Linked DNA regions of Homo sapiens. The protein of the gene in region 1 purifies or fractionates together with the protein of each later gene. This does not show direct contact. Each region holds a gene or a part of one and is shown in the gene's direction. Other genes may lie near its edges.

Evidence for each region. Proteins that work in one complex are often made in the same cells at the same time.
Region 2: the proteins of AKR1B10 (region 1) and ADCK5 purify together in Homo sapiens (co-immunoprecipitation; one large-scale study listed by IntAct). This does not show direct contact.

The regions. Positions count from the first base shown.
Region 1 is NC_000007.14:134,530,567-134,534,066, forward strand, and holds part of AKR1B10 (aldo-keto reductase family 1 member B10), read left to right. Parts: intron 1-76; coding exon 77-244; intron 245-1,341; coding exon 1,342-1,458; intron 1,459-2,437; coding exon 2,438-2,515; intron 2,516-3,500. UniProt on the Homo sapiens protein: Catalyzes the NADPH-dependent reduction of a wide variety of carbonyl-containing compounds to their corresponding alcohols. Displays strong enzymatic activity toward all-trans-retinal, 9-cis-retinal, and 13-cis-retinal.
Region 2 is NC_000008.11:144,387,547-144,391,046, forward strand, and holds part of ADCK5 (uncharacterized aarF domain-containing protein kinase 5), read left to right. Parts: intron 1-1,716; exon of another isoform or gene 1,717-1,790; intron 1,791-3,124; coding exon 3,125-3,200; intron 3,201-3,309; coding exon 3,310-3,500. UniProt on the Homo sapiens protein: The function of this protein is not yet clear. It is not known if it has protein kinase activity and what type of substrate it would phosphorylate (Ser, Thr or Tyr).

The DNA.
Region 1 (3,500 bases):
CCAGCCTGGGCAACACGGCAGGGCCCCATCTCTTAAAAAAAACACATATGTGATGAGCTTTTCTTTTGCCTTTCAGTCTCCTCTTGGCAAAGTGAAAGAAGCAGTGAAGGTGGCCATTGATGCAGGATATCGGCACATTGACTGTGCCTATGTCTATCAGAATGAACATGAAGTGGGGGAAGCCATCCAAGAGAAGATCCAAGAGAAGGCTGTGAAGCGGGAGGACCTGTTCATCGTCAGCAAGGTGCAATGGTGCATTTGGTGGGAGGCCTTCACTTCAAGGCAGGCAGAAGTATCTGGGTCGGGTTGGCAGCAAGAACTCTGTCAGCCTTTTCTACATGTACCCCTTTTCATCTCTGCCTTGATAACATCCGTGAATACAACACTATCCATACTCCAAGCCATTATTGATATTTGAACATGTCGTGGCTGCCCCACCTGCCTGTAGGTTGGTTTTCCCATAGTGGGCTTGGTTCCATGGAACCCTGCACTGCCCTGGGCCTCCCTGTTCCCCATCAGAGGGATCTACCATCTGCCCAGAGGCAATCAGAGGCCAAGGGTGCAGGCGGGTCTTGATCTGAAGCCTCCCTTTCAGCACTGTGATCTCAGTGACTGTGCCCCTGAGACTCTCAGCCAGGGGGAATTTTAGAAAATGGTAGGGGCATTTTTCTATTGTCACATATGAATTTCTTTATTCATTCTAGTAAAAGGTGAGGGATACAATGTTATAAAAAAGAAGAAGATGTTGGGTGTGAGAGGGCTGAGAATCACTGGATCTATATTATACATAACTTGCTGAAAAAAAATAACACTAGTTCTAGGTACTTGGAAAATGCATACATCTGGTAGGACAAATAGACCTCACTGTGTAGCAGCCAAGTCTGGATAAAGCCTTTGTAAAATTATCACTTGGGGCCTTATAGGCTTGATAAGGGACCTATCAGATAGGTCAGATAAAGGACCATCTGCTCCCAAAGGCCTAAGAATGCTTGACATTTAAAAGCTACACACAATTCCTGCTCTCAGAGAGCCTACAGCTGAGGAAGAGACTGAGACAGGTAAACAAATTTCAAATCTGTGGCCACATTTACTTCAATGATCTGAGACACGTATAGAGTACTAGGACAGTTGAAAAAGTCAATTGCTTTTAACACTTAAGACATGTCATTGAGGTGCTGAGCCCTGGTGATGTTCCACACTGTGTCGTGGATCTTAATCAGCTTTGTTACAAATGGCTTGTGGTGGGTTAGATGAGGATGCAAATCAAAAAGCAGGGACAATGAGTACAATGTGGCCCTTCCTTTTCCCAGTATTAATAGCTCATTGCTACACTCTTTGCAGTTGTGGCCCACTTTCTTTGAGAGACCCCTTGTGAGGAAAGCCTTTGAGAAGACCCTCAAGGACCTGAAGCTGAGCTATCTGGACGTCTATCTTATTCACTGGCCACAGGGATTCAAGGTTTAAGACACTCTCTTTCTCAGCCTCTAGTTTCTGAGCAGGTGCCAGAAAATAGTAGCTGCACCAGGGCTGTGGGGTGGTGTGGACTGGGGCAGGAGGCCTTGCATTTCATAATTGGGAATGGCAGGTGGTCAGGAAGAGACCTTGGAGAAGAAACACACTGGCCTGGAAGGGAGGTTGAGGCCATGTGTGCTGCTGAGGTGGCCACATGCCTGGGTTTTCTTGCAGTTATGTCTGAGAGAAGACATGATTTCTGGCAGCCCAGACAAGTTGCAACTGCCATATCACCTTTGTCTTGATTCCACGCCCCAGGGTTGCCCTCCCAGGAAATCTCTTGGGTTACTCTTGCATAACTATATTCCAGGGCATAATTATCTTATTAAGCAAAGTACACCTGGGAGTGGCATCTTGGAGAAAAGCCCAAGTATGGTGATGCTGGAAGGAAGCCAGTAGTGATCCAGGCACCCATTGCCTGGGGCTCTGCTCTTACCTGCTCCTGAGGGGTGGGAGAGACAAATTTCCAGCTCTCTCCCCTCCTGACCAACTGGAGTGATGATGGCCTGCCACCCCTAATTCCACGCCTCTTCTAGAGGCTGCAAGGATAGAAGTTGGCCAATATCTTCTCCAGAAAACCACAGCTTGGATATCTAATCCTTATCCAGTAATATTGAAATGAAAGTTTGCCCTTGGTTGTATATGGGATCTAGGTGTATGAGGTTAATGTCCATGGTGATAATGAACTTCTGGAATGTACTAGCAGCAAATCTTAAAGTCAAGCCAGTCGTTTCTAAAATATTAGTATGCTACAGTAGATACAGAGATTTTAATTAAACTCACATTCCTAAAGTATGTACTCCAGAACTTGAAAAAGTGGTATGCAGATGTGGTATTTAGCAAGAGTCAGGATCCTGAAACCTTGTTGAACAGAACCAAGTGTCCTGATGCAGATTCCAGTAAACTTTTCATTCTGTGTTCACAGTCTGGGGATGACCTTTTCCCCAAAGATGATAAAGGTAATGCCATCGGTGGAAAAGCAACGTTCTTGGATGCCTGGGAGGTAGGTTCCCAGCTTCCTCTAAGTGTGCTGGGAGAGAAATCTTCAGTTATCCATGAGATTCGCATGGATATGAATGAGGCCATGTGCCTGATGCTTTCTAATTTCATCATTGTGATTTTCTAGCTCTTCTAATATCTTCCTCATCACCTTTGGCTTTTGGGTACATCTGATACTATTTATATTTCAAGGCTAATAGTCTTCAAATAAGACTGGAAATACAATGTACCCCACTTTGGGGAATACACATGCTGTTCTCAAACCAGGGCGAGGCATTTGGAACAGGAGGTTTGGGCCTGGGTGTGCTCATAGCAGCTGAGTAACCTAGGGTCAGTTTTGTAACTCATGTAGGGCTCAGTTTTCTCTTCTTAAAAAGAAGTTGTATAATACATACTACCAATATATATCTTCCAGTGTGTGATAAAGATTAAGATGGTTTACATGCCAGGAACATTAGTCATAAAGCCCATTTAACCCTAGGAGACAGGGTTAACATCCCCATTTATAAATAATGACATTTGAAACCTAGATTGTTTGATGACTTGCCCAGGTCTTGTCACAATGTGTGTGGCAGAGCTGGGATTAGACCCAGACTCATCTGAATCACAAGTCCAACCACCAAAGCCATCAGCATGGTGCTTGGCAGGCAGTGAAGACACATCCAGAAATCAGGGAGCCTGAGTGCTCTGCTTCTCAGATCTAACCATGACCTGTTTCACGTCATTCACATTCAAAATGAATGAAGGGATGAACATTTTCTCTGGTCATTTTTTATTATTTATACCCTTTTGCAAATGCTAGTAGAGAATGAAGTGGAGGAATAAGTTATAAATGAACAGTGGCTTATGACTCCAAGAGTTAATCGTGTTATTTTGGTAGCTGTCTGTGTAGGTGTGCATGTAGTTGCGAGTTTGTATTGTGTTTTACAAGCAAAAATATATTATGTTTCAACTTTCTGAAATGCTTATAATTGACATGATTCAATGAA
Region 2 (3,500 bases), on another chromosome or scaffold:
ACCTGCCACCACACCCAGCTAATTTTTTTTTAATTTTTAGTAGAGATGGGGTTTCTCCATGTTGGCCAAGCTGGTCTTGAATTCCTGACCTTAAGTGATCCATCTGTCTCAGCCTCCCAAAGTGCTGGGATTATAGGCATGAGCCACTGCGCCTGGCCTCCACCCAGCAGTTTAGCACTCATTGATACTTTTTTTTTTTTTTGAGACAGAGTTTCACTCTTGTTGCCCAGGCTGGAGTGCAATGGTGGGATCTCCGCTCACTGCAACCTCCACCTCCTGGATTCAAGCGATTCTCCTGCCTCAGCCTCCTTAGTAGCTGGGGATTACAGGCACACGCCACCACACCCAGCTAATTTTGTATTTTTTAGTAGAGGCGGGTTTCTCTGTGTTGGTCAGACTGGTCTTGAACTCCTGACCTCAGGGGATCCGCCCGCCTTGGCCTCCCAAAGTGCTGGGATTATAGGTGTGAGCCACCACACCCGGCCTCCAACATTTTGTGAAAAACTTCAAACATACAGCAATGTTGAAAATGCTCTGTGAGGCAATGTGAAATGCAATGTGAAAATGCTTTGGGAGGCCGAGGAGGGCGGATCACGAGGTCAGGAGTTCGAGACCAGCCTGACCAACGTGGAGAAACCCCATCTCTACTAAAGATAGAAAAATTAGCTGGGCATGTGGTGGGCACCTGTAGTCCCAGCTCCTCGGGAGGCTGAGGCGGGAGAATTGCTTGAACCTGGGAGGCGGAGGTTGCAGTGAGCCTAGACTGTGCCACTGCACTCCAGTCTGGGCGACAGAGCGAGATTCCATCTCAAAAAAAAAAAAAAAATTAAATTCCTTCTCCCCCAAGCACAAGTCTGTGGGACTTTTTCACATCTTTAAGTTTTGTTACAAAAGTGTTGTGTTTACTATAACAAATTTTAATAGTAGAAAAGTTAGAGCCGGGCACGGTGGCTCACGCCTGTAATCCCAGCACTTTGGGAGGCCAAGGTGGGCGGATCACGAGGTCGGGAGATCGAGACCATCCTGGCCAACACGGTGAAACCCCATCTCTACTAAAAATACAAAAAAATTAGCCGGGCGTGGTGTTGGGCGCCTGTAGTCCCAGCTACTCTGGAGGCTGAGGCAGGAGAACGGCGTGAACCTGGGAGGCGGAGCCTGCAGTGAGCCAAGATCGCCACCACACTCCAGCCTGGGCGACAGAGCGAGACTCCGTCTCCAAAAAAAAAAAAAAAGAAACCGAAACCCTGGCCTAACCCAAGCACGCACTCCAGATGCTCTACGGGGGCCAGAGTGGGGCCTGAATGGCCGGGGGGTCGCCCTGGGTTGATGGGGGACACAGAGTCCACCTGAGCGCCAGAGCTGCGCTTCAGGAATGACTGTGGGCCCTGTCCCCAGGCAGGTACGTGAGCTTCACAGAACGCAGGGACAGGCCTCTGGCCATGGCCAGCCTTGGAGAAGCCACTCTGACCTCAGCCCCTCCCTGTGCACCTGTGTGTGGTCTGCCCGCTGCCTGGCGCCTCATTCCAGGGCTGCCCAGCTGGTCCCCAGAGTTCTCCCAGGGCTCCCACCCTGATATCCTCCTAACTGGGGCCAGGCCTGGGGACACCCCTCTACCCCATCCTCTTGCCTAAATCTCCCCCAGGAGCCCAGTACCTGCTCAACAGATACCCAGGATGTCCCCCACTTCCTGCCTTAACTGGGCTCTCTTCCCTGCAGACCTTGCCTCCCCAGGCCTTGGAGACCCACCCTCCTGGTGTCCTCCTCTCTTCCTAGTGGACCTCAGGCTGCAGGTGACCTTGACCCTCCTGTGACCTCTGCTGCCTCAGCCCTGCCCCCTTGCTGCCATCCTTTACCTTCACAGACAGCCTTGGAACCCCATCTCTCCAGAGGATGCCACCGTCCATACTGTCCCCTACCCCATCTCACCTGGGCACCCTTGAGGGTGGCAGGGAGTGAGGGTGGCATGGACACAGGCTGCCCATTCTGCAGATCTTTTTTTGTTTTTTGAGACGGAGTCTCGCTCTGTCGCCAGGCTGGAGTGCAGTGGCGCAATTTTAGCTCACCGAAACCCGCCTCCTGACTTCAAGTGATTCTCCTGCCTCAGCCTCCTGAGTAGCTGGCACTACAGGCACGCACCACCATGCCCAGCTAATTTTTGTATTTTTAGTAGAGACTAGGTTTCACCATGTTGGTCAGGATGGCCTCAATCTCTTGACTTTGTGATCTGCCCGCCTCGGCCTCCCAAAGTGCTGGGATCATAGGTGTGAGCTACCAAGCCCAGCCTCTTTTTTTTTTTTTTGAAACCGAGTTTCGCTCTTGTTGCCCAGGCTGGAGTGCAATGGCGCGATCTTGGCTCACTGCAACCTCTGCCTCTCGGGTTCAAGCAATTCTCCTGCCTCAGTCTCCCGAGTAGCTGGGATTACAGGTGTGCACCACCACACCCGGCTAATTTTTTTGTATTTTAAGTAGAAATGGGGTTTCACCATGTTGGCCAGGCTGGTCTTGAACTCCTGACCTCTGGTGATCCACTCACCTCGGCCTCCCAAAGTGCTGGGATTACAGGCGTGAGCCACTGTGCCCAGCTCTGCAGATCTTTTTTGGACGGAGTCTCGCTCTGTTGCCCAGGCTGGGGTGCAGTGGTGCAATCTCAGCTTACTGCAGTCTCCACCTCCTAGGCTCAAACGATCCTCCTGCCTCAGCTTCCTGAGGAGCTGGGACCACAGGTGTGCACCACCGTGCCTGCCTAATTTTTTTGCATTTTTGGTAGAGACAGGGTTTCAACATGTTGCCCAGGCCAGTCTCGAACTCCTGAGCTCAAGTGATCCTCCCAGCACAGCCTCCCAATGTGATGGGATAATTGACATGAGCCACCACACCTGGCCCCGTTCTACTGATCTTGAGCTGAGACTGACCTGCAGGGCCACAGGACACCCCACGAGCTCAGCAGCACCCCTTGTGCTCACACAGGCCTACGCGGCTGTAGGCTGGACCCTGGCTTGGCCTCACCCTTGGGACATGAAGGGCTGGCCGGGGTGAGGCTAGACCATGAGGGCTCTGACAAGAGGACCAAGCACCGGGGCCCCGAGCCTGCCCCGCTGGAGACTGAGGCCACCTCTGCCCGCAGGTCTCTGAAGGTCGGCCTGCAGATCTCCCTGGACTACTGGTGGTGCACCAATGTTGTCCTTCGAGGGGTGGAAGAGGTTTGTCCTGGTGCCCTGGGCACACAGTGGTGGGCATGAGGTGGTGGGCTGGGTGGGACTGAGGAGGCAGCCACCTGTCCCCATGTGTTCTCCCCATGCCTGTGGTCAGAACAGCCCAGGCTACTTGGAGGTGATGTCTGCGTGTCACCAGCGGGCGGCTGATGCCCTGGTGGCAGGGGCCATCAGCAACGGGGGCCTCTACGTGAAGCTGGGCCAGGGGCTGTGCTCCTTCAACCACCTGCTTCCCCCCGAGTATACCCGGACCCTGCGCGTGCTAGAGGACAGGGCCCTCAAGCGGGG